Homo sapiens: one gene and its partners. The protein of the gene in region 4 interacts with the protein of the main gene of each other region in a pairwise test. Each region holds a gene or a part of one and is shown on either strand. Other genes may lie near its edges. The genes, in order: FOXR1, PNRC2, FOXM1 and BANP.

Region 1 (7,030 bases), on a different chromosome or scaffold from region 4:
CCAGGGTAGTAGCAGGGAGAACCAGCTGGCTATGCTGATGGATTGGATATGGCGTATAAGACAGACAATTGAGTATGAGCCTTCAAAGTGTTTTGACCTAGTGGAAGGATAGAGTTGCCTTGTACTGAGTGGGAGACAGGTTTAGGAAGGAAGATCAGGAATTCTGTTCTGGATATGCTGAGCTGGAGATCCTTAGACATCCAAGTAGAAGCATTGAGTCTGCAGTTGGATACATGAGCCTGGAGTTCTGGAGAGAAGTGGGGACTGCAGATGTAAATTTTGGGTCTTTTGGTATATGGGTGGAACTTAAGGAGTAAGAATAGAGGAGGAACAAGAATGAGCCCTGGGGGCAGTCCATTGTAAAGAGATTGGAGAGAAGAGAGATAACTAGCAAAAAAGACTATTGAGAATCAAAACTAGGGCGTCTGTGGTATCCTGGAAACCAAGTGGAAAAAGCCTTTCAAGGAGGGAGGGGTTGGATGAGTGGAATGTAAGTGATGATTGGACTTAACAAAGCAGAGGTCCCTGGTTAGTGGTTTTAGTAAGTGGTAGAACAAAAAACCTGACTGAAGGGGGTTTAAGAGTAGAAGGAGGGGAAGTAGAGGCAATGTGTTATGCCTCAACAGGAAATAAGATGGGATAATCTTTTTCTTTTTCTTTCTTCTTTTTTTTTTTTTTAGAGACAGGGTCTCTATCTGGTGCCCAGGCTGGACTGCAGTGGCACCAGCACAGCTCACTGCAGTCTTGAGCAGCCTTGAGCAGCCTTGAGCAGCCTTGAACTCCTCGGCTCAAGTGATCCTCCTGCCTCAGCTTTCCAAAGCAGGCTGAGATTACAAGCATGAGCCACTGCACCTGGTCCCTAAAATGGGAGAATTAACAGCATGTTTGCATGCTGATGAGAATGACCCAACAAAGACAAAAAATTAGTGACACAGGAAAGAGAGGGGAAGATTTGTGGAACAACATCCTTGAAAAAGCATGGGGGATCTGTGCCAAAGAGAGACACAGACATACAAAGGTGCTATCCTTGGGTCGCAATGAGATCACCAGTCCATTGATCCTATCACCTTTTCACTGTTTCAATCACTTGATATGTCCACCCTTATTTAACTAACTTGAATCCCATGGTCAGATATTACGCAGGTTCCCTGGATCATCTGTGGCTTTGGAGCACTTTGTTGGCCAAACCACAACCCTGACTAAATCCACCTCTGCCAAACGAGTGCGCCAAAACCATAATTCAGTGGACTGGTGACCTCAGTGGGATCATAGTTGGGGTTGAGGGAGTTAGCCAGAAAGACACGAGGTGGTGCGTTTTTATGTGGTGCATAAATGAGGTTACGGAGAGGTTGCAGTTGTTGGTTTAGGTTATGCCTGAGGGAGTGTCCACAGTAGAGTAGAAGTCAAACTCGCTGGAGAAGAGTTCAATAAATAGCAAAGATCATGTTTTTGTTTTTGAAGCAAGGTCTGGCTTTGTTGCCCAAGCTGGAGTGCAATAGCGTAAGCTTGGCTCACTGCAACCTCCCTTTTCCCGCTCAAGCCATCCTCCCACTTCAGCCTCCTGAGTAGCTGGGACTACAGGCTCACGCCACCACACTCGGCTAGATTATTATCTTTGTATTTTTTATAGAGATGGGGTTTCACCATGTTGCCCAGGCTGATTTCAAACTCCTGGGCCCAAGCAATCCGCCTGCCTAAGCCTCTTAAAGTGCTGGGATTACAGGCATGAGCCGCTGCACCTGGCCAGCAGCCAAGATTTAAGGCAGGAGTAGTGTTGGAGAGTGACAGCTAAACCAGGAGGTCAGTAGATGGTAGTAACAATGGAGATTGATTAGTATATAAGTTCCTGTATTAACTTGAATATATACATCCAGGAGCAGACAGTAAGGTCGAGTAAATTGTGGTCCTGCCTGATTGCTCTTAACAAGGGCTGCTCCAGTTGATACACAGAACTGCAGTAAAATAAGAGATTCTGTCTCTTTGCATGTTTCTCAACACTTGGTATTATCTTTATAATTCCAGTCAATTTGATTATCTCATTATCTTACAGTGTTTTTCGTATTATTAATAATGCTGATCATCTCGTTAGCCATTCAGTTATCCCCTCCTTGTGAATGCTGATTCATATCATTTGTCCATTTCTAAGTTTGTGTTGACCTTTTACATATTGATTTGTAGGAGCTCTCTATGTATCAGAGAACTGAGAAATTTGGATTGAAGTTTTGCTATTTTGTTTGTTTGTCTATTTGTTTTTTGCTTATGGTGATTTTTACTATGTTAGAACTTTTTTTTGAGACAGAGTCTTGCTGTGTCACCTAGGCTGGAGTGTAGTGGCACGATCTCAGCTCACTGCAACTTCTGCCTCCCAGGTTCAAGTGATTCTCCTGCCTCAGCCTCCCAAGTAGCTGGGACTACAGGTACACACCACCAAGCCCGGCTAATTTTTTGTACTTTTAGTAGAGATGGGGTTTCACCTTGTTGGCCAGGCTGGTCTCAAACTCCTGACCTCAAGTGATCCACCTGCCTCGGCCTCCCAAAGTGCTGGGATTACAGGTGTGGGCCACCGCACCTGGCCAAACTTTAATTTTTGTGCTATAATATGTGCATAAAACTTACAGATTCATTTTGAGGGTAACTGGCATCTTAATAGTATGTATTATAAGTCTTTGTTCAAGTATTTTAAGTTCTTTATTTAAGAGCTGAGATGGGAAGATTGCTTGAGTTGGGAGGTGGAGATTGCAGTGAGCCGGTGTCACACCACTGCACTCCAGCATGGGCAACCAAGCAAGACCCTGTCTCCAAAAAAACCCCAATTTTTCTATCTTTTGCTACTTTTTCCTTTTTTGAATACTATGTTGAATATTAGCAACATAATAGGCATCCTCTCTAATTACTGAGCTCTCCGATAAGTATATCATTTCTCAAACAAAAGCCTAGATTCATCTGTAATATAATGACACTCATAGGGACAGTGAGGGGGCAAAAATAGTTTTTGTCCTGAACAACCATTAATGGTGGTGCCACTTGCTAAGACAAAGAATACAGGAAGGCCAGGCATGGTAGCTCACGCCCGTAATCCCAACACTTTGGGAGCCCGAAGCAGGAGGATTGCTTGAACCCAGGGGTTCGAGACCAGCCCAGGCAACATAGACCCTCATCTATACAAAAAATACAAAAATTGGGCTGGGCGCGGTGGCTCAAGCCTGTAATCCCAGCACTTTGGGAGGGTGAGGCAGGCAGATCATGAGTCAGGAGTTCGACACCAGCCTGGCCAATATGGTGAAACCACGTCTCTACTAAAAAATACAAAAATTAGCCGGGTGTGGTGGCGTGCGCTTGTAGTCCCAGCTTCTTGGGAGGCTGAGGCAGGAGAATCACTTGAACCTGGGAGGCAGAGGTTGCAGTGAGCCAAGATCGCGCCACTACACTCCAGCCTGGGCGACAGAGCGAGACTCCATCTGAAAAAAAAAAAATACAAAAATTAGTGGGGTGCAGTGGCATGTACCTGTAGTTCCAGCTACCTGGGAGACTGAGGTGGGAGAATCTCTTGAGCACACCACTGCACTCCAGCCTGTGCAACAGAGCAAGACCCTGTCTCAAAAAAAATACAAGAATACAGGAGGAAGAGCAAGAAGATGGAATTCAGTTTTAGAAGTGCGTTTGAAGTGCCTGTGGGCTACCCAAGTAAAGACATCCAGTAGGTAGTTCTCCTTAAGGGCTAGCACAGAATGCTAGGCTAGAGGTGAAGATTTGAGAGCTCTACATTTTTTTATAGATGTTAACTGAAGCCACGGACATGCATGAGATCATTCAGGGATAGTATACGTAGAGTGAGAAGAAAAGAATGCAGAGGGGAATGAGAAGGTCAGAGAGGTAAAGGGAAAACCCGTAGAAGTAGAATGTGATGTTAACTCCCAAGGCAGGGCCCACAACCTTCTCCCAGAGAAGCCTTAAGGCCTAGGATCCTAGGGTCACAAAGGGATATTCTAGGATGTTTTGACTCTCTCTGTCTTTCTTTTTGCCAGTTGCCAGGTATAAACTCCGAATTGTTAAGCCACCAAAATTACCCCTAGAGAAAAAACCCAACCCTGATAAGGATGGTACGTATTGAGTTCTCTGACCTGTTTCTGTGGCCTGGGCTGGAGACCAGGGGCACCCAAAGCCAGTGGGCTGTGGCACACAATCTTTTGTTCTGCACAGGTCCAGATTATGAGCCCAACCTCTGGATGTGGGTAAATCCCAACATTGTGTATCCCCCTGGAAAGCTGGAGGTCTCAGGACGTAGGAAGAGGGAGGACCTGACAAGCACACTCCCCTCCTCTCAGCCACCCCAGAAGGAGGAAGATGCCAGCTGCTCAGAGGCCGCAGGGGTGGAATCACTGTCCCAGTCCTCCAGCAAGCGGTCTCCCCCTCGGAAGCGGTTTGCCTTTTCCCCCAGCACCTGGGAGGTATGCATTTTTGGGGATGGGAGTGGGACTTGGGCAGTAGGCGAGGGGCATGGGGAAGAGCCATTACAGTTCTGCTCTCTTAGCCATAGCAAAAGGTGAATGGGTTCAGAAATTACCTACATGCTTGGGTTGGGGAGAAGCCCAAATGGTGGCCTTAGACCACCCCCCCTTCCTGCCACTGCACCCTGGAGTAGAGGCTGAGGAGTCAGGACCAGTTCCTACTCTGTGCTCCTCTAGCTCACAGAAGAGGAGGAGGCTGAGGACCAGGAAGACAGCTCCTCTATGGCTCTCCCATCCCCTCACAAAAGGGCCCCCCTCCAGAGTCGGAGGCTTCGGCAAGCCAGCAGCCAGGCGGGGAGGCTCTGGTCCCGGCCCCCTCTCAATTACTTCCACCTAATTGCCCTGGCATTAAGAAACAGTTCCCCCTGTGGCCTCAACGTGCAACAGATCTACAGTTTCACTCGGTATGTGCCGGGGGCCCTGCGAGGAGGGGGAAGTGGGGGCCAGGGCCCCGGGCTGATGCCTTCCAATCCATCCCAGGCCCTGGGTTGCTGACCTGGTTTCCCTATCTGGGTCTGAGAGGACAAGTATGTTCCCAGTTCCCTTTTCCCAGGTGCATTTGTGCCCACATTGTGCCCACATTTTATGGCTTTAGTTTTTTTTTTCTTTTTAACAAGTTTTCAGTGTTCTTTGGGTATAGTTCTCCTTTAAAACATACATTCACTTGGGTCAGGTAACAGTTTCCCCACCATCCTCTGAAGATCAGCCAGTCTAAAGTCAGGTTTCCCCAACGGTTCCCACCTGCTTCTGCTAGGACTGGACTGCCTGGCACAGCTCCCTGCACCCCCAGGGGTGCAGAGAACCCAGTTGAGAAGGATTTTCCATTTAGCTCAGATAGTCCTGCTCACAGGAGGGTGAGGAAGGGAGTTTCTTGGGCCCTTTCCCAGTGTTAGGAGAAGTGCCTAATGTCTCAGGACAGGAATTTTCAAGTGGTGTCCGTCCTCAACCAAGATTCCTCTTACAGGAGCTGCTTGGCCTGATTCTGCTTTGTTCATGCTGTGGTCCAAGCCCTGGGCCCTCAGAGGGAGGGAGGGTTCAGGTGAGCCACGCACCACGTGGATGCTTTGCCACGTGCTCAGTTAGCAAAGAGCAACTCCAGGCCAACTTGCTACTATCCCCCTGGAGAGAAGGGCTAAAGCCCCTGGCCCCTGGGTAGAACATGCCCCAGAGAAGGGCATTCCCCAGACATAACATGCCTTTCCTTACCTCTCCTCCCTGTCCATAGAAAGCACTTCCCCTTTTTCCGGACGGCCCCGGAAGGCTGGAAGAATACTGTCCGTCACAATCTCTGTTTTCGAGACAGCTTTGAGAAAGTGCCTGTCAGCATGCAGGGCGGGGCCAGCACACGGCCTCGATCTTGCCTCTGGAAGTTGACCGAGGAGGGACACCGCCGCTTTGCGGAGGAGGCCCGCGCCTTGGCTTCCACTCGGCTAGAAAGTATCCAACAGTGCATGAGCCAGCCAGGTGTGAAGACTTGTTGTGCGTGGGCCCAAGGGGAAGAGACCTGAGGATCCTGACCCAAGGCCAAGTGTGGAAGCCTGGGTCACACCGTGGGGGTGGGGGAATGCATCTTCTATAGGAAACAGGGAGATTAACAGTGATCTGAGACCCTCAGGTGATGCCTGCCTGAGGTGAGACCTCCCCCACCAGTGTGGGGCGTGATGTGCCAGGAATCCATGGGCAAACAACTAAGGGGCAACTGGCCTTACCAAGACCAGCAGTCTAGGCAATAGTGAGCACACAACATGAGAAGCACAGTTAATAGAGGTTATGTACAAAGAGTACTTCTACTTTCCCTGGAGCAGTGCAGGGAGGCTTCAGAGAAGAGGCAGCATTTGAGCCTTGAGTGAAAGAAGCAGATGACCTGCTATGAGAGAGCATCCCAGGCCTAGGAAACAGCAATTGTGAAGTATAAACTCCTGAACTCTCTCCTTTTCTTACAGATGTGATGCCCTTCCTCTTTGATCTTTAACCCCAAGAAGCAACAGCCAGCTAATGCTTTATTAAAATTACCCTCACTAGCCTTCTGTGTGTGTCTGTGGAGGTGGGGTCTCTAAGGATGGGGTTAAGGGTGGAGGTGGAGATCAACTCCAAGGTTGGAGATGGAATGCCTTCAGCTTACAGATGCTCCTGAGGCAATGGGGCAGGTGCCTGCCGTGCAGCAAAGGGAGTCCGTAATTTTCTTTCCTCAAAGGAGGAAAATGCACAGCCTTCTAAAGCATCTTGGAGCAATTTCCATTTTTCTGGATTATGAAGATAATCTTGGCTGGATGCAGTGGCTCACACCTGTAATCCAGCACTTTGGGAGGCTGAGGCAGGAGGATCCCTTGAGCACAGGAGGTCAAGGCTGCAGTCGGCCATGATCACACCACTGCACTTTAGCCTGGGCAACAGCAAGACTCCATCTGTAAAAATTATTCTGGGAGATGCCCGTTTGTAGCAGCCAATTCTGTAAGCACCACACATTCATTCAATTGATACTCCTTAAGTGGCTACTGTGTACCAAGCTCAGGATAGAATAC
Region 2 (7,836 bases), on a different chromosome or scaffold from region 4:
TACACTGGCACTTTAGCACAAGGGCAAACTTTAAAAACAAGTTATTTTGGACCTTTAAAATTAGGCCATATTATAAAAAACAGTCCACGGTCTTACATTCAGCAAATTCATACTAAAATACTCCATTTTTGTAAGATAAAGGCCAAGAAAACTTTACATATGCTACAAGTTTATTACAGATATTTACATGGCTCTTTCTCCCCTAGGTACTTAAAATTTTCACATTATCCAACTCCCCAAAGCAAGCTTTGCAGGAATGATGAGGCCAGAGCACTATTAGAATAGCTTGTGCAGTGCTGTAATACAAAAATGTATTTTGAAAGCTATTGAGTGACCATTAAATACTGTTTCTATAAAAAATGGTTTTGGTGTATTTGTTGACAGACACTTAATCCACTACATTTAATAAACAGGGCCATTGGGGTGTACTATGTCTCATTCTAATGAGCTCCAAATGCCCTTTCCACCCACTGTACAATTCACTAAAATGCAATTATTACGAAAAATTCACATTTTCTTTCAGCAGTGCATCAGGTTAGCATATTACTGGTTTGGGTGTTTCTAATATACTAAACCTTCAGATGTTTACCTAATTCTGAATCCTTGTGTTAGCTAGAAGCTTATAATCCGATTCACCAACTTTCAACAATCTACTGGTCCATGAATGATAAATTACTGTCTTCCCCTAACAATAGAAAAAGCTGATTCCTTTACCACTCCCCAAATCTAAACTTGGTTTCCACTTAAAAGTTACTCAGTTGAGAACACTTAATATCAAGTACAATCATTAGTTTAAGTTGCACTGATACTACCATTATATCACAGTGCACACAACACGAGATGGTCTATTTTTTTTACATTAATTAGTTCTACACAAATAGATTCCCTAGCGAATTTGTTTCAGACCAATTGACAACTATCCGTGAACATAACTAAATTTAAACATTTGTCTTATTTTATACCTGTACTTTAAGTAAGGTTTTAAGTTGAAATGTCATTATTTCCTTATCTGAAGGATTAAAGGAAACAGGGACCCAGTGGCTTGGTGGTTTGGGAAGAACACTTGGTGATGGCGGCTCACTAAATTTGGCACCAGCATAGTTCTGATTAGCTTGAGATTTAAAAAGTAACCTGGGACCTGATAAGCTAGAATTCCAACTTTGATTATTTGGAAAATTTTTGTTCTTCCCCCCATTTTGCATGGCCTGCCAGGCAGCTGCTGATGAGTTATAACCATGTCCTCTTTCTTTTTTCTTATGAACAATCTTCATCTGGGAATTCTGTTCCTTGGTCTTCTGTCTGTTAAGCTGTTGTTGGTTCTTACTAACATTTCTAGATTGAGGGGCTGGAATGTTATACCTCTCTCCACCACCCATCTTCAGCTTCTTTGTCACCTACAAGTGAATGGAAACAAATATTGAGTAAAATTCCATTAAGAAAAGTTCAAAATCTTTAAGAAGCTTCTATGGCTCCAACTTATAACTCCAGATATTTTGGACAAGACTCAATAACAGGCTATTCAGCTGCTTTAAACTCAAAAAAGCAAGCCGTTCAGACTTCAATATATGCACAACCTTTATTGTTATACCTTCCCTAAGAAAAATGAGCTTACCCACAAATCTACATAATCTATTTTAAAATAAAAACAATTGGTTTAGGATGGTTCCATCATAAAATGTTTGCCCATTATGATGATTACCTTTCAGTCTGCTTTTCAGATTGCAGGATCTCCACTACCTGTCCTCTTCCTTGCTGCCAAGCCCAAGATAACAAGTGTTGCTTTCTGACAGATCCCTTCCTTTGTCTCAATACAGAAGTTTTCATGGGCCGATCTGCTGAGTTCAGCCTAGGAGCTGAGGCCAACATCTGAGTCTCCTCAGCACACAAGTTTGAGAGAAGTCCTAGCTAGAAAAGTAAAGATTACTTCATTATTTCAAAAACACGTTGAGAAAGTGATCATTTAGATTTACTACGAAAATCGTTGACTGTAAAGAAGGCTACTTCCTGAACTAAAAGGTAGAAAATTTCTCGTAAGATGGCTTTCTTTGACCTTATAACCACGACCATTTAAAAAAACTCTTCACCCTTGAGATCCAGTCACTCCTGGGGAATTTTTGTAAGTGTCTCCAAGTCCCGCAATAAGTTTTATCTTTATCTTTTTCCTGGGAAAGACCTTCAGATTCTCTCGCGTATAAAATCAAGGAAGTGTTAAATGTTGAGTCATATCAAAAAATTGGCTTCAGGCGGATTTTCTAAAGAGACCGTGTTTTTAAACTCCCACCAGAATTTTCCAATCTTTCCACACATGTCACATCCATTTTCAGTCTCTTGGAACATGTAGACATCACGCAGTGTTTCCTTTGGTTATGAACGCTCTCGCCTCCTCCCCGTCTTAAAATAAGTTCTCACAAGCCCTAACAGTCTAAGCCCATCTTAAATATATAAAAATGTCTCCCTAGAGGGAACAGCTTAACTTTCAAGGTTTGGTTTTAATTTGATGTTCCAAGAAAATAAGTTACCAAATAGTTAAGCCCCCTCCTTTCAAAGGGGTAAGAGAGCTTTCCAAACAGATAAACAACCCTAAATAAATTGCCATTTCCGGACTGTGAGTAATTCCCAACTCGAACCCGGAAAACGCCTCCTCCGACGCCACAAGGGCTTGGCTTCCCAGTGGCCCCATCTCTCCGGAGCCGCAGGGGTCGCGGCGCTGCGACCGCCCGTGACCGCCCGCGCCCGCCCGGGTTACCCGGATCTCGCCTCCGCTCGCCTCCTTCCTCCAACAATGGGGAGCGCGGCCACCAACATGGCCGCGCCCTTAGCGCAGCCGCTACTTACTGACTTCAAGCTCGGAACTAACGCGGCAGCGGCTCCCTCTCGACGTCGAAGCCTCCCTCCCTTTCCAGGGAGAGACGAGGCACGGACCGACAAAGCCCACGAACACCGATGAGCGAGCTGCCGGCCACCCCAGCTTCTACAACCCGACCTTCTCCTTCTGCCTCTACCGACAAAATGGAGTCGGCAGCGACTGCAGAAGCAGGGCCGGGAGGCTCCGCGGCCAATCAAAACACGACAGCGCGGGCCTGGCCAATGAGAAGCGGGCCGCCGCCTGTTGCTGGGGCTGGCCGGGGGCGAAGGCGCGGAGGTGGGGCTGCAGAGGGTTTGAAATCTGCCCGGGGAGGAGGAGCATGCCGGGAGTAACTGCTCGGTCCACCGGTGTCTTAGTCCTTTCTCCGGCGGCCTCTCCGCGCCCCTGGCCCGCCGAGGCCCCGGCCGCTAGCTCTCGGCTCTTCCTACCGCTCGGCTCTCGTGCGCGCGGGCTCGCCGCCCTTGGGACTGCCCTGGGGGAAAAGACTGACCGGCGGGGGACGTTTGGTTCTCGAATTAGGGCCACTGAGTCCTGTAGCCTGTATTGACAGATGGAAGATACTCCGGAAAGCCTCTTGCCAGGGCGCAGCCCCCTCCCGCCTCGGGCCTCGGCTTCTGGGTCGCCTCTCTCCCACACCCACAACTCCGCGTCCGAAGCCGGCGCCTCCCCGCGGTTCCCTCCAGTGCCCCCACCCTCCAGCCCCGCAATTACTCAAAAGTTGCCTCCCTGTGAAGGCGGTTCAGACACACGCGGGCAAGTCAGTCACTTCCTGCTTGGTGGCCCCATTGGTCCTTAAGTTCAATTAGAGCCCTTTACGCGCCGTGTTACCGTTTCCTGTGGCTGCAGCTCTCCCCACCCACACACCCTCGAGGGCCACAACCGGTTAGGTTTTGTTTCTCTGAGCACAGCGCCTTCGCGCGTTGTAAGTGCACAGTAAGTTTGCTGAAAGAATGAGGACTGCTCTCCTCCCCTTTCTGCCCCACTTGTAAGTGAAAAAGGGGAAGAAAGAGAATATTGTTCAGTTGATTATGCCAGCCAGATGCAGGTAAGGGGAAAATGGCAATTTCTTTGGAGTAAATGTATAAGTAACCCAATGTGAATCTTTTAAAAGAGCACTAATTTCAATGAGCGTGAATAATTCTGGGCCAAACGGTACAAAATCAGTCTCATTCACAGTTTGTTCGTGTATACACATATATACCCAAGTTTACGTTACAGAATTTATATTTACCAACTTTTTATAAATCTCATGTAATTCGTTATTTTTGAGACGGAGTCTCCTTCTGTCGCCCAGGCTGGAGTGCAGTGGCACAATCTCGGCTCACTGCAACCTCCGCCTCCTGGGCTCAAGCGATTCTCCTGCCTCAGCCTCCTGAGTAGTTGGGATTACAGGCGCCTGCCACCACACCCTCCTAATTTTTGTATTTTTAGTAGAGACAGGATTTCATCATGTTGGCCAGGCTGGTCTCAAACTCCTAACCTCACGTGATCCGCCCGTCTCAGCCACTCAAAGTGCTGGGATTACAGGCGTGAGCCACCACACCCGGCCTGTATTTCGTTTTTTAATCTTCAATTTTTTGCCACCGTTATCCCCCACTTCCCAATCCAACCCAAATTCCTATATTCTAGCCATTGGATCTTAAGAAAAGTTACTGCATCTTACGGGATGCAGTTTGTTAATCTAATTTGATAAAAGAGGTATTTTTGAGCATAGGGACTTTCTGATGCTAATCATATTCAAATAAGAAGTATGTGGTAAACCAACAGGTGTCTTAGTGAAAGTGTAATCTGTTTTCCAAACATTCAAGAAGTTTGCTTAGACGTCTAGCCAGATAATAGCCAGCTGTATTTAATGAATTTTTAATGGTGTCACTTTAAAAAACAAAAAACAAACAAAAAAACACTTCCGTGGCTCCAAATTGTGATACGGAATAAAATCTAAACTCTAAACGTTTAGAAAATTATTCAAAGCCATTGCAGTCTAGAGTTAGTCTTTTCATGGCAGGGCATGGCTCACACCTGTAATCTCAGCAATTTGGGAGGCCGAGGCAGGAGGATCACTTGAGCGCGGGAGTTTGAGACCAGCCTGGGCAACATGGCAAAACCCCATCTCTACAAATAACAATTAGCTGGGCATGGTGGCACACGCCTGTAGTCCCAGCTACCTGAGAGACTAAGGTGGGAGAATCACCCGAGCCCAGGAAGTAGAGGCTGCAGTGAGCTGCGATCACAACACTGCACTCCTGGGTGAGAGTAAGACACTGTCTCAAAAAAAAAAAAAAAAAATTCATCTCTTCAGCCACTCTGAATTTTATCTGCATAAACGCACACATAACATTGGAAATGTATAAACCCACACAGAGTATCCTTACTCTGCCCCCTACCCTGTGCTAAATTTTTTTTTCTTACATCATTTCATTTAATCCTCACAATAATGTTGTGAGGTAGGAGCTGTTTTCATCCGCACTGTACAGATGAAGGCTCAGACGGTTTCGAGTTGAAAGCCAGGTACTAGGATTCAAGAGGCCAGGCTGCAGGTTGCCTGCAGCATCTGTGCTCTCCAGCACCTAAAAGGTTTTTTGCTCAGAGCAGACACTGACTGTTGACTGGGCTGCCGGGGCTGTTCGGGCAACAAGAAGCCTCCATCCTACCATCTGGCAGAACCAGTTTCTTTGCCAGAAGGTCAGAGTCGAGATGCCCTTGGGGAAAGCACTGTTAAAGCTTTTACTGCGTCCCAGACTCCCAGCACCCTCTCAGGCTAGCTCCAGCCTCATCATTCATTAGTATTTACCAAGTGCCCGCAACAGCTCAGAACTAGAGAGGAGAAGTTAAAATAATACCTTTTTTGGGACATCTGATACAGCCTCTGCCAGAACCATATGGTCTTTAAACTCAGCTCCACCAGCACAATCCTATTAGCAGTTCTCAATTCAAATAGGAAAATGTTGATGCCGACAAACAGCTCTCAGGATACAGCTCACCTAAACTGGAAGCCAAATGCATAATAAATACATGGATGTTTAATACAAAATATTTAGCAAAGATTTATCTGGTGCCTACTTTGTGCCAGGCACTATGCCACGCTCTGGGGATACAGCAGTGAAGGAGGCTCCATCCTGGCCCTAAAGGAACCCAAAAGCTGTTTCCTTTACAATTTACCAGAGAGGGAAACTAGTGTCTGGGAAGATTTATTCCCTCCCTTCTTCCCCTGAGAGTCAAGGACAGGCAAGGCCAAAATCAGCCTGCTAACCTCACTCAGGAGGTGCAGGTAACAAACATTGTTACTGGACCCTGCAAATAAAGTAGAAAAGGAGGGGGACTCTCACAACTTGCTGAAATTTTTTCACTGGAGGATCTGTTTTGAGCTATGTATCAGTGGCAACCAAAATCAATGAAATCATTAGGAAAACATTATCTACCTAATCTGTAAGTAGAGGTGGAGCAAAAAGCAAGTGTTTCTGGGCCGGGCACAGTGGCTCACGCCTGTAGTCCCAACACTTTGGGAGGCCGAGGTGGGCAGATCACGTGAGGTCAGGAGTTCGAGACCAGCCTGGCTAACTTGGTGAAACACTGTTTCTACTAAAAATACAAAAAATTAGCTGGACGTGTGGCGCATGCCTGTAATCCCAGCTACTTGGGAGGCTGAGGCAGGAGAATCGCTTGACCCCGGGAGGCAGAGGTTGCAGTGAGCCGAGATCGCGCCATTGCACTCCAGTTTGGGCAACAACAGCAGAACTCTGTCTCAAAAAAAAAAAAAAGAAAGTGTTTCTGAAAGCCCAGCTTTGGGGGAGAGACAGGTTGTAGGCTGAGGCATACAACTGCACCAGTGCCGGGGTAGTTGGAGAAATCACCCAGGTTTGCCATGGCTTTGGAATAAGTATATAGTAGAATCGACTGGCCTTCAGGCTGAGTCTCAGTTTCTTCATCTGTAGAATGGCAATCCTCCCTGTCTTGTAGAGCTCATGGTAGGAGCCAATGAAATAATAAATGTAAAAGCACTTTTATGATGTAGATTTAGAATACACCTGTAATTCCAACACTTTGGGAGGCAGAGGCGGGAGGATCACTTGAGCCCAGGAGTTCAGGACCAGCCTGGGCAACATGGTGAAACCCCATCTCTACAAAAATTACAGAAATTAGCTGGGAGTGGGAGGTGGTGTGCCCCTGTGGTCCCAGCTACTTGAGAGGCGGAAGTGGGAGAATTCCTTGAGCCCAGGATGTCGAGACTGCAGTGAGCCATGATCACACCACTATACTCCAGCCTGGGCAACAGAGCAAGACCCTGTCTCAAAAATAAACAGAACATGCTAAAAACGTTAGGTACTTTAATATTATCCCCCAACTCCACCCCCGCCCTAGCGAGTCCATTTCAAAACAAAAGCTGGTTTGGTTCTTTTTCTTCTTTAAGCTCATATATGAAATCAGATGGTCAACTTTGAATGTTTTTGCAGGTCTGTCCGCTCAGGGCTTAATTCAGTTTGAAGAAGCAAGCAAATTCTTAGAACCTGCCAGAAGAGTGAAATGGAACACCTGCCCACTGTTTCGATGTGCCTCAGAGCTCTGATCTTGTTGCCAAACTGATTGCAAAACACACACCCCTCCCCACACCATGAATTCATTTCCTGGGGAAGCATCTGCTGCCTCCCTGCTTGCTCAGACATTCCTGAGAAGTGTCAAATCTGTTCTTAACCATTGCAGCCATTTTGGTCTAATTACTAAACGGGGCACAGGAAGTCAATGATGAACTCCCACGCCTCCTGTCGACGCTGATCCAGGGGTCCAACCTTCAAGACCCTTAAAGGATTCTGATGCCCAGACCCCATCCCAGAATCAGAATCTTTGAGCACGGGGCTGCGGCTATTCCAATCCAGTTGATTCCAATGTCTCACTCCAGTTGAGAATCACTGCTTTCAGTTTTGCTAAGGGCAATCCCCTGGTGTGGAGGCATGTTTATGAAGGAGACCCCCTTT
Region 3 (6,969 bases), on a different chromosome or scaffold from region 4:
TGGGCCCACTACTGCCACTCTCTTTTCCCTTGGCAGTCAGTGCTGTGATGATGCTGTGAATATTAGCATTGTTGGGGATGGCCACTACTTGCGTGTTGGGCATGGTGGGGTGGTTAATAATCTTGATCCCAGCTGGAAACTTGCAAGAGTTGGACTCTGCCACTTCCTTGGAGGCCTCTGCTTGATTAGACTCCTGTTGGGCAGGGGATCTCTTAGGTTCCTCCTCTGATGTTTCACTTGGGGCATTTTGAACAGGAAGGGGCAGCCTCCGTCTTTTGAGAATCAGTGGCCGACGGGGGCTAGTTTTCATTATGAATCTGCGTTTTCACTCTCCATTGAGAATCACAAGTGTGGACCCTGGAAAATGCAAATAGTGGCAAGATGTTAGAGATTGTTTAGGCTGAGAAGAGGTCCTTTTAGAGAAAGGTGCTCCTCTTTATATGACCAGGAACATGAGCCTAAAGGCCCAGGTAAACATTCCATGGACTTTTGTAAAGACCTCAGATAATAAGGAGATAAGCTTTACTGACAAAAGAAGGCTAAAATTACAGCAGACAGAAGCAATTCAAAGGGCAAAAATGGGACTGGGTTGGAGATAAGACAAAGATCTCCTTGAAGCTTCAGAATATTTGGCTACAGAAATGGATGGGATAGCTACAAATATGTGGAAATCTCTATAATTGCCTACTATAATATAAATAGATCACTTGCAATGACTGTATGGACAGAAATGGAAGATGCTAGAATAGGAAAGCATATGGTAATTAGGAGTCCTGATGAAACTCTGATCCCATAATCCATTCAAGACAAAGGATTTTAATTTTTTTTTTTTTTTTTTTTTTGAGACAGAGTCTCACTTTGTCACCCAGGCTGGAGTGCAGTGGCACGATCTCAGTTCACTGCAACCTCTGCCTCCTGGGTTTAAGCGAGTCCCACGTCTCAGCCTCCTGAGTAGCTGGGATTACAGGTGCCCACCACCACGCCCGGCTAGTTTTTGTATTTTTAGTAGAGACAGGGTTTCACCATGTTGCTCAGGCTGGTCTCAAACTCCTGACCTCAGGTCATCTGCCCGCCTCGGCCTCCCAAAGTGCTGGGATTACAGGCGTGAGCCACCGCGTCTGGCCAAGCCTTTTGATTTTTATATTACTTTGTAAATAGGACCAGTGCACACAGAATCAGGGAAGAAAGGCAGATTGTACTATTGCCACACTACTGGAAAAATCATCTCCCAGTTTACAAAACCTCACATAAAATGGAAACCTCTACTGAAGGCCCATGTAAAGTTGTGCAGCTTGTGCACTGAACAACTCTAGAGGGTGACATTTATTTCACAGGCTATTATACTTGCTCTAATTTAAAAAGCATGTTTTCTTTTACAATTTGTATTGTATTTATACAGTGGCATTTTAGTACTTGCATGTGGTTATATATATTTTAACTAAGCATGCCACTTTATTAATTTCTTTTCCAGAAATAAGACTATAACCCCTGTCTTCTTAGTACCACAATGAGCTATCATCATTACACTAAGGTGGTTCTGAAATGCTAACAGTGTAGTCTTTTTTTTTTAAGTCTTTTGTTGATTTTTTTTAATTTTTTTTTTTTTTTTGAGACGGAGCTTCGCTCTTGTCACCCAGGCTGGAGTGCAATGGCGCAATCTCAGCTCACTGCAACCTCGGCCTCCCGGGTTCAAGCGATTCTCCTGCCTCAGCCTCCCGAGTAGCTGCAATTACAGGCATGCACCACCATGCCCAGCTAATTTTTTTTTTTTTTTTTTAGTAGAAACAGGGTTTCACCATGTTTGCCAGGCTGGTCTTGAACTCCTCAGGTGATCCACCCGCCTCGGCCTCCCAAAGTGCTGGGATTACAGGCGTGAGCCACTGCGCCCGGCCTTTTGTTGATTTTAATAGATACATGGAATATTCTACCATTAAGCAAAATTGTGTAATTCTATTTCACGGAACTTTGGAAGACAGAGGAATTGGCTGTCTCTTTTTTAGGACACTTATTCTCTCCCTGAAAAGCAACTGCACTTTTTTGACATTTGTCATCTGCATAGAGTTCACAGGCCCTCCACACCTCTACCTTCAAATCTCAGTTTTACTTTCACCTCCGATCTTTCCAGGCTTCCCTCTCTCCCCGCATCAATCAGTAGATATTATTCCTCTTTTTCCACAGGATATCTAAGTCTTAATTTTCTCTTCTACTTCCTGACCAGCCCGTTATTATTATTGCCAACACTTTCTTGCCCGGGAAACTTCCAGAGTGGCTCCTCCGACCCATCCCCATCCTGAGCGGGGAAATCTTGCTACATTCTCAAGAACCAGGAAAAGGGCCCTGCAAAAGGGTAAGTAAGATGGAGGCGGTGTTGCCTAGTGGTGAGACAGCCTGGGAGCAGGGGAGTGTGTATGCAGGTTGGTCTTTGACTCAATGTAGTACAATCTCAGTCTTCATCTCAGCCACAGTCGGCCTAAGAAGGTAGGCCACCCCAGCCCTCCCGAGGCCGCGGGCAGGGTGCGGAGGTCAGACTTCCAGGGAAGGCCAAGGGGCGCTTTAAGCAGTGAGAAGGCCACGGCCAGGAGGTGGACGCAGAAAAAACTTGCACCCTGGCTCAGATTCTTCCCGTGTGACCCAAATCTCCACTCGTGGCCCGTGCCCTGCTGCTAGACGCCCTGACCTCCGCGCCCGGAGGCCTTGCTCCCCGCCTGTGCCCAGGCCAGGCCTGGGACTCCATTGCTGCATCCCGCTCACCTCCAGACTGCAGTCGCCGCCGCCGTTAGGCCGTAGCTCCGAAGGCGGGCTCCGGGCTCCTCCAACCTGGGGGCCGAGCCAGGGCCCCGGACGGGGGCTCGCGCCGGACCGGCCGGGTCCCCGGCGGTGCGGGCGGGGTGGGAACCCCGGGGGATCCCGGGAGGGGAGGGGGTCCCGGGCCGGGGCCGGGGGTGGGGTCTGGCACCGGAGCTTTCAGTTTGTTCCGCTGTTTGAAATTGGCGCCGGCGGAGCGTTAAGGTCACGTGACGGAACGTCGCCAATCGGCGCCGGCCTTGTCTCGGCATTCCGGGCTCGAAGGCTGTGCGGTCTGCCAGGAGCTGCGGCCCCGTCCGGCCCGGGCTGGTAAGGCGGACCGCAGGCCGGCTTGTGGGGGAAGAAGTGGCCGTGGGGCCGGGGAGGGGCCGGAGGGGTCCCCGCCGCGTGGGTGGGCGAGCCGAGGGAGAGTTTGGGGACGCGCGGAAGCGGCGTGACAGGCCCGGGTCCCTGGGCCCGCTTTTCCTGCCGCGCTGGTCACGCCAGGCGACACGCCCCCGCTTCCCCTCAGGCTCCTCTGCTCCCCTTTTCAAAGCTCGGCTTTAGTTGATTTCCTCACTGGGGGAAATCGTACCCCATTTTCCCACAGTGAACGATCGTCTGCTCCCCCCGATTAGACTAAGTTCCTTTGAGGGCTGCGTATTATCTCCGCTTTCTTCCATCTTGAAAAAAAATGTCGGCACCATGAACCCTACCTCAGCGCGAAACCTGTCTTTTGCCCCTCCCGAAGCCAAGCCTTCGGATATAATAGACCGTAGTGCTTTATTTATTGACTTAGTCAACCAGTCTAGTTGAGCAACTGCTGTGCGCCAGGCACCGCTAGGCCCTGAAGATACAATGGCAGACAAGGTTCTTTCCTTCCCCTGGGCTCACAGCCCAATCCTGGAAGAGGGGCACAGACATTTTAATCAAATAAACAAATGTGGGCTGGGCATAGTGGCTCACGCCTGTAATCCCAGCACTTTAGGAGGCCGAGGCGGGTGGATCACTTGAGGTCACGAGTTCGAGACCAGCCTGGCAACATAGCGAAACCGCTTCTCTACTAAAAATTAGCCGGGCGTGGTGGTGCGTGCCTGTAGTCCCAGCTACTCTGGAGGCTGAGGTGGAAGGATCACCTGAGGCCGAGAGGTGGAGGCTATGGTAAGCCATGATCACACCACTGCACTCCAGCCTGGGCGACAGAGGGAGACACCGTCTCCAAAACAAACAAATGTTGAATTATTGCTGTAAATTGAAACATTAGAGGTTAATGATACTTTGAGTATTTACAATAACGAGATCTTGAGAGGTAGGACAGGAAAGGCTTTTGTAATGAGAGCTTGGTGTGAGATCTGATGCCTTTTACAAAGAAAGGAGGGAACTCCTCTAAGCAGAGGGAATCAGGCGTGCAAAGGCTGGATGGCAGGAGGAAGCACAGTGAGTACAAAGGCTGAGAAATATCTGAGGGGTTTGAGCTAATCGACCTGAATGGAGTGTGGTGTGAGTTGAAGCTGGAGCCGGAGGAAGCAGAGCCTTAGCCATACCGAGAAGTTTTGTGCTTATCCAAGAATTAAAGGAAACCAGTCATAAGCTTTAAGCAGAAGTGAATCCAGGTCAGATTTGCATTTTAAAAGGTCCCTCTATAGCGGGGATTGCTAGAGTGGATTAGGGCAGAACAGTTGGATGTTGCAATACTCCAGGCAAGAACTGCTGGAGCTTGAAAAAGGGTGGCAGGGAGAGAGAGAGAGGAAGAGAAAGAAGGAGACAGAGAGAGTAAAAAAGGGGCATTAAGAAAACATGTTTAAGAGGTAAAGTTGACAGGGCTTGATGGTGGGTTGGATGGGAGGTAGAAGTGTCAAGATTTTCAGCTGCATAACTGAAGGAATAATGACACTATTCCCTGACCAAGGGCCCTGGAAGATAATCACTTTGGCCAAGGGACGGGCGGGGGGTTGTCAGGGGAATGATCGTGAATTCAGTTTTTGTTTTTTTACTACAAAGCAATGCTCAGAATGAGTTTTTTTTTTAATTATATATTTATTTTTATTTATCTTTTTATTTTTTAGAGACAGGGTCTTGCTCTGTCCCCCAGGCTGAAGTCCAGTGGCATGACCTTGGCTCACTACAACCTCAACCTCCTGGGCTCAGGTGATCCTCCCACCTCAGCCTCCTGAATGGCTGGGACCCCCTACAGGCACATGCCACTACACCCATCTAATTTTTGTATCTTTTGTAGAGACAGGGTCTCACTCTGTTGCCCAGATTGATCTTGAACTATTCGGTTCAAGTGATCCTCCCACCTTCACCTTTCACAGTGTTGGCATTACAGGCATGAGCCACTGTGCGCGGCCAAGTTCAGTTTTAAACTTGTTGAATTTTTTTTTCTTTTCTTTTTTTGAAACAAGGTTCTGGCTCTGTCACTCAGGCTGGAGTTCAGTGGCACGATCTCGGCTCACTGCAGCCTCCACCTCCTGGGCTCAAGTGATCTGCCCACCTCAGCCTCCTGAGTAGCTGGGACTACAGGTGCACGCAGCCGTGCCCACCTGATTTTTTGTATTTTTTGTAGAATTTGGGTTTCACTGTGTTGCCCAGGCTGGTCTCAAACTCATGAGCTCAAGCGATCTGCCCACCCCGGCCTCTGAAAGTGCTGGGATTACAGGCGTGAGCCACTGCGCTCAGCCTTACACATGTTGAATTTGAGGTGCGTTTGAAATATCTAGTTGCTGTTCAGGTAGGTAATGGGATATTTGGGTCCCAAACTTAAGGAATTCTAAAATATATAAATATTGAAGTCATCTACTTCTAGGTGGATACTGAAATACAGGCAGATGAGTTTGCCTAAGAAAAGTATATAGAGTGAGAACAGCTCCAAAGCACAACCAGAGGGGAAGGACTTAGACAGCAGAATGAACTGACCTCTAATTAGAGCAGAAAGAAGATAGATGTTGATACGCATAGGTTTGTATATTTGCTTTCTGGAAAATGAGAGTATTTCCTTTGATGTCTTCTGTATTCTTTGTCAAGTAGGAAGTAAAGTCATTTGTTAAGAGAAAAGGGGTGTTCTGAAGTTCTAAGAAAGTGGGCAGGGTGTGGTGATTCACATGTAATCCTAGCACTTCAGGAGGCTGAGGGAGGAGAATCACTTGAGCCCAGGAGTTCAAGCAAGACCTCATCTCTACAAAAAATAAAATAAGAAACTAACCAGGTGTGGTGGTGCTTGTCTGTATTCCCAGCTATTCGGGAGGCTGAGGCAAGAGGATCTCTCGAGCCCAAGAGTTTGAGGCTGCAGTGAGCTATGATCGTGTCACTGTACTCCAGCCTGGGCAACAGAACAGGACCCCATCTCTAAAAATAATTTTAAAAATTAAAATAAAAATGTTCAGGCTGGGCGTGGTGGCTCACGCCTGTAATCCCAGCACTTTGGGAGGCCGAGGTGGGCAGATCACCTGAGGTCAGGAGTTCAAGACCAGTCTGGCCAACGTGGTGAAACCCCATCTCTACTAAAAAATACTATAATTAGCTGGGCGTGGTGAGGGCGCCTGTAATCCCAGCTACTTGGGAGAGTGAGGCAGGAGAATCGCTTGGACCTAGGAGGAGGTTGCAGTGAGCCGAGATCACGCTACTGCACTCCAGCCTGGGCAACAGAGTGAGACTTTGTCTCAAAACAAACAAACAAAATTTCCACTTTATTTATTTATTTTGAGATAGGGTCTGTCTGTCACCTAGGCTAGAGTGCAGTGGCACGATCATAGCTCACCATATCTTCAAATTCCCAGGCTCAAGTGATCCTCCCACCTCAGCCTCCCAAGTAGCTGGGACTACAGGTACATGCCAACATGCCAAGCTAATTATTCTTTTAAATTTGTAGTAGAGACGAGGTCTCTCTATGTTGCCCAGGCTGGTCTTGAACTCCTGGCCTCAAGCAGTCCTCCCATCTCAGCCTCCTAAAGTTCTGGGATTACAGGCGTGAGCTACTGCACCTAGCTTGGAGAAGTTTTAAGATAATCTTTGTGGAGAATGAGTTGATCAAGGAAACAGGATTGCTGAGCAACGTACCCATTTGAAGCTGATGACTTTCAGCAAGTCATGAATTTCAAAACTATAGCCATTGCTACCACTGTTATCTTTTCACTGGATTTCTGTGGTAGCTTTTTGTTTGTTTGTTTTCTAGACTGAATCTCGCTC
Region 4 (4,413 bases):
GAACTCCTCCCAGAGAAAGCCCAGAGAGGCCCCGCTCTAAGTCAGCGAACACGGCTTCACGTAGGCCCTTCCCAAGCCCCTAACGCAACTGCCACAACGGTGTAGGTGAAGCAGTCCAGGCCCGGCTGGTCACCAGGGATTCAACTGCCTCTGGCACTTCTATTTGCAGATATTATCTCTGCCTTAAAAAAATCTGTAAATAGTAGGGCCTGCCCCTGTGGCTGCAACTTTCTCTAAGGACCCCAGGACTGTGCCTTCTGGAGCTGGCAGAACTCTGTGGTTTATGAGAACAAGAAGTTCCACAGCTGTGTCCTAAACCAGGTTTCCCCTCGGCAGTGCCTACAACACGGAAACAGAACTGACTGTCCCGGGGTGCCCACACCTACTGTCTGCACAGTGGAGAGGGCAGCAGCGTGGCCTGAAGGCCAGCGAGCCCAACCCCCCAGGGACAGGCACTCTCTGGCGAACCGTCTCGCAGGAGGAAAAGCGTAAGGCTGCTGTGGTCATAAATACATTTTATTTCATTAGAAATGCATAATTACAGTGTTTAAGAGCATTTCCCCTAGAAAAGTAGGTCAGCAATACCCCATCGGAACCGAGAGCTGGCTTTGCAAACACCTGCCTCATGACACTGGACAGAGCACACAGCAAAGGGCTCCCGTCTCATGACACTGGACAGAGCACACAGCAAAGGGCTCCCGTCTCATGACACTGGACAGAGCACACAGCAAAGGGCTCCCGTCTCATGACACTGGACAGAGCACACAGCAAAGGGCTCCTGCTACTCCCCTGGGATTTTTTTTTTCAAATTTTCTTTTTTGTTATAAACACCATAGCAAATTAAAAAAAGCTGTTTAAACAGAAAAATATCATAGTTCTTGATTTCCCGCGCATATGCGACGCTCTCCGCACCGTGCCTCCCCTCGTGCTCCGACACCAACAGCAGGACTCAAACGAAAGGGGTCTCCGGCTGGGGGCGGCGGCGGCTGCTCTTTCAGTTGATAGGATGCTGTTCCCCGCGGAGGCAGCGGCCTTCAGACGCACTTCAGCAGAACACGTGCAGCCGCTGCCTGTGCCGAGGCCGTGAGAGCAGGGCGCGTGGGGGCCGGGCCGTAGGCGGAGCCGGCGAGGGGCTCCTGGTGCCATGGGCACCGCTCACTGAATCTGGATGGCCCCGTGCTCGAGCTGCATCTCCGGCTGTAGCGTGGGCTGCAGGGCTTCGGCCGTCTGCAAAAGGGAGAAAGGAGGGACTTTCTAGAAAAATACCCAGCACTGCATGGCCAGGGGGTGTCATGAACAGCCAGTGACTTTAAGGCAGAATGAGAAACACGCACACAGGAGCGCGAAGGAGCCCTGACGGCCCCAAGGCTCACCCGACTTGGTACACAACGCCTGGCTCCCAGCGGAACGACGCGCCCACGACCCTGGCGCCCAGGGAGGCTCCGGCACACCCAGGCCCCGGCCCGCCCCCGACATGGACTCCGTCACCGGGGCCGGCGCAGCAGCTGCTCCTGCCTCTCCACCCCCAACCCGCTGCCTCACTGGGAAGTAACCTGGAAGTGGAGAACATCCTGGCCCTCCCGAAGATATTTCCCTGAAGCTTCAGGTACCATTTTGCCTTCCTATAAACACTGTCCCAATGTTTCAACAAAGGATTTTCGGGGCAGCTATGATTCTTCCCTCAAAGATACAGGTTCTGGTCAACGAGTTACAGATATTAAAAGGACTTCAAGTACGAAATCACAGCTTTATCTTAAAATGAGTTAAAGGAGGTCGGGCGCAGTGGCTCATGCCTATAATCCCAGGGCTTTGGGAGGCTGAGGCAGGTGAATCACTTGAGGTCAGGAGTTCAAGCCTAGGCTGGCCAAAATGGTGAAACCTCGTCTCTACAATAAATACAAAAATTAGCCGGTGTGGCGGTGCACACCTGTAGTCCCAGCTGCTAGGGAAGCTGAGGTAGGAGAATCACTTGAACCCAAGAGGCAGAGGTTGCAGTGAGTCGAGATTGCACCAATGCACTCCAGCCTGGGCAACAGAGCCAGACTCCATCTCAAAAAAAAAAAAAAAAAAGTAAAGGAAAAACATACAGTCTTGGAATAAGTCACTCATCCTCCAGCTCAGCCACACGGAACACGCCCCAGGTGGAGGAGCCCACTCTAGGGCTGCCGTGCACACTCCCAGAAGCTTCAGCTGGAAGGCACAGGAACCACAAAGGAAGAGCCAGGAGAAGCCACGAGCCCACGGCCGAGCCCACGGGAGGAAGAGGCCTGGCAACTTCTACTCTAGTTAAGGTCCTGCTTCATTTTATTTTTTAGAGATAGGGTCTTGCTCTGTTGCCCAGGTTGGAGTGCAGTAGTGCAAGCACACCTCACGGCCGCCTCGACCTCATGGGCCCAAGTGATCCTCCCACCTCAGCCTCCCAAGTAGCTGGGACCACCAGTGCACACCACCACGCCCGGCTAAATTTTTTTGAGACGGAGTCTCACTCTGTCACCTAGGCTGGAGCACAGTGGCGCAATCTCGACTCATTGCAACCTCCGCCTCCCGGGTTCAAGCAGTTCTCCTGCCTCAGCCTCCCGAGCAGCTGGGATTACAGGCACCTGCCACCATGCCTGGCTAATTTTTGTATTTTTAGTAGAGATGGGGTTTCACCAGGTTGAGCAGGCTGGTCTCGAACTCCTGACCTCAGGTGATTGGCCTGCCTCAGCCTCCCAAAATGCTGGGATTACAGGCGTGAGCTACCGTGCCCGGCCCCAGCTAATTTTTTTACGTTTTGTAGAGATGGGGGTCTCGCTACGTTGCCCAGGCTGGTCTTGAAGTCCTGGGCTCAAGCAACGCCCCTGCCTCGGCCTCACAAAGCACTGGGATTACAGGCATGAAACACTGCACCTGGTCCAGGTTGTGCTTTTTCAAGACAAATGTCAAATGACACTCGATATACTGTTCCCTGGATGGAGGAGGGGCCTTCCAGGGTAGGATGAGGGGTCAGTATGAGGACTGTCTCCTGCGAGCCCGGCCACAGCTGGGAAGGCCTAACGGGAAGGGGTGAACCTCAGCTGGAATGGAGGAGCCACACCAGGGCCCTGGGGTGGGTGGCTGAAGGCCATGGGAGGTTGGGGTAGGGGGGCCACCGCCTGGGATGCAAAGCCCCTTCCCCCAGACAGCTGGAAAGGCAGCTGGGGACTTGGGTGGGTGGGGACAGTGGGGCACAGGTCTGGGCTGGCTGGGACTCACTTGCCCTCCAAGGACAGTGGCCAGACCTGTGTTCTGGGCAGAGGCTGGTGGAGGTGCTGCCTCTGCTACAGATGGTTCAGGGAGCCTGTGACACCCACAGGCCACCGCGCATTAAGACAAGTGTCTTCCCCTGCAAATGGCACCCCCCTACCCTCCCAACCCACTGCTCCAGGGAACAGGCCCCACTCTCCACTTTGAGGATTGGCCACCCCCACAGGCCAGCTACCTGCCTTCCCTCCTAAGGGAACCCATCTTCTCAGAGCCAGGCCCTCACAGCTGAGCCACAGGTTTTCCTAGAACGAGCTCAAGCGCGTGACCCTGCTCTGACCCATGCAAGATGCAAGACCATTCCCAAGCATGACTGGGGTGGGGGCTTCATGTGGATAAGGAGGCTCAACCAGAAACCTGTCTCTGTTGGGTGCAGTCACGCCTGCAGAGTCACCATGAAGGCCTTCGGTCACTTCCCAGTGGGGCAGAGCTAGCCTGAGGACAAGCTGAGATGGTAAGGCAGAGAGCTGGGCCCTTGGTGACAAGCTAACGCACCCTGCAGTTGTCTGGCCTCAGATGGGCAAACCCGCTCACCACCAAGTCCAACCACGCTGGGGTTTTCTGCAGGGAAAGCGGCCCCTTAAGCACGCCGTCTTCCTTGGCTGTTACGATGGATCCTAATTAAATCATTCACCTGGGGCCTGCCAGGAGGGCATGGTAACAGAGAGAGCTTACAGGAAGCTAGGGGTGTAAACACCAACCATGGGACACAGGTTTGTTCAATTCTGAAATCGGAAAATGACCAGAAACTTATAATGCAGCAGGACGCCCTCAGGCATGGCCCCCACATCTAGTTTCCTGGGCGCGGACCTCACTGCCCTCCTGCAGCGCTCCTATCTGGAACGGCACGGGGGGCTGCCACGCGTCCTCGGCAGGGGCTGAGGCAGCCACGCCTGACTGTTCTTCACGGACAGGCCAAGGTTCACACCACATAAAATAAGCGCTGCCGAACGAGTTTGCCTTCACCATCCCACCCACCCGCTCCTCACTGCCTGTGCGTTCTGCGCCCATGGCCCTCACCGTGCTTCCAGCGCATCTCCAGTGAGGTCGGCGACAATGTGGAACCAAACACCACGCAGAGTACAGGGCGCGCCTCTGCGGGGGCCACCGCGCCCATGGGCAGAGTACAGG

What was found.
Region 1: the proteins of BANP (region 4) and FOXR1 interact in binary tests that used the Homo sapiens proteins (3 or more experiments, as listed by UniProt).
Region 2: the proteins of BANP (region 4) and PNRC2 interact in binary tests that used the Homo sapiens proteins (3 or more experiments, as listed by UniProt).
Region 3: the proteins of BANP (region 4) and FOXM1 interact in binary tests that used the Homo sapiens proteins (3 or more experiments, as listed by UniProt).

Annotation. Positions count from the first base shown.
Region 1 is NC_000011.10:118,974,757-118,981,786, forward strand, and holds the end of FOXR1 (forkhead box protein R1), read left to right. Parts: intron 1-4,025; coding exon 4,026-4,100; intron 4,101-4,200; coding exon 4,201-4,448; intron 4,449-4,685; coding exon 4,686-4,912; intron 4,913-5,733; coding exon 5,734-5,972; coding exon of another isoform or gene 5,973-6,016; exon of another isoform or gene 6,017-6,100; intron 6,101-6,451; coding exon 6,452-6,480; 3' UTR 6,481-6,531; downstream 6,532-7,030. UniProt on the Homo sapiens protein: Transcription factor which acts as both an activator and a repressor.
Region 2 is NC_000001.11:23,954,998-23,962,833, reverse strand, and holds the start of PNRC2 (proline-rich nuclear receptor coactivator 2), read right to left. Parts: upstream 3,007-7,836; 5' UTR 2,836-3,006; intron 1,906-2,835; 5' UTR 1,700-1,905; intron 1,395-1,699; 5' UTR 1,377-1,394; coding exon 957-1,376; 3' UTR 1-956. UniProt on the Homo sapiens protein: Involved in nonsense-mediated mRNA decay (NMD) by acting as a bridge between the mRNA decapping complex and the NMD machinery. May act by targeting the NMD machinery to the P-body and recruiting the decapping machinery to aberrant mRNAs.
Region 3 is NC_000012.12:2,874,169-2,881,137, forward strand, and holds the start of FOXM1 (forkhead box protein M1), read right to left. Parts: upstream 3,007-6,969; 5' UTR 2,752-3,006; intron 2,348-2,751; exon of another isoform or gene 2,097-2,347; intron 358-2,096; 5' UTR 311-357; coding exon 1-310. UniProt on the Homo sapiens protein: Transcription factor regulating the expression of cell cycle genes essential for DNA replication and mitosis. Plays a role in the control of cell proliferation. Also plays a role in DNA break repair, participating in the DNA damage checkpoint response.
Region 4 is NC_000016.10:88,073,404-88,077,816, reverse strand, and holds the end of BANP (protein BANP), read right to left. Parts: intron 1,228-4,413; coding exon 1,156-1,227; 3' UTR 501-1,155; downstream 1-500. UniProt on the Homo sapiens protein: Controls V(D)J recombination during T-cell development by repressing T-cell receptor (TCR) beta enhancer function. Binds to scaffold/matrix attachment region beta (S/MARbeta), an ATC-rich DNA sequence located upstream of the TCR beta enhancer.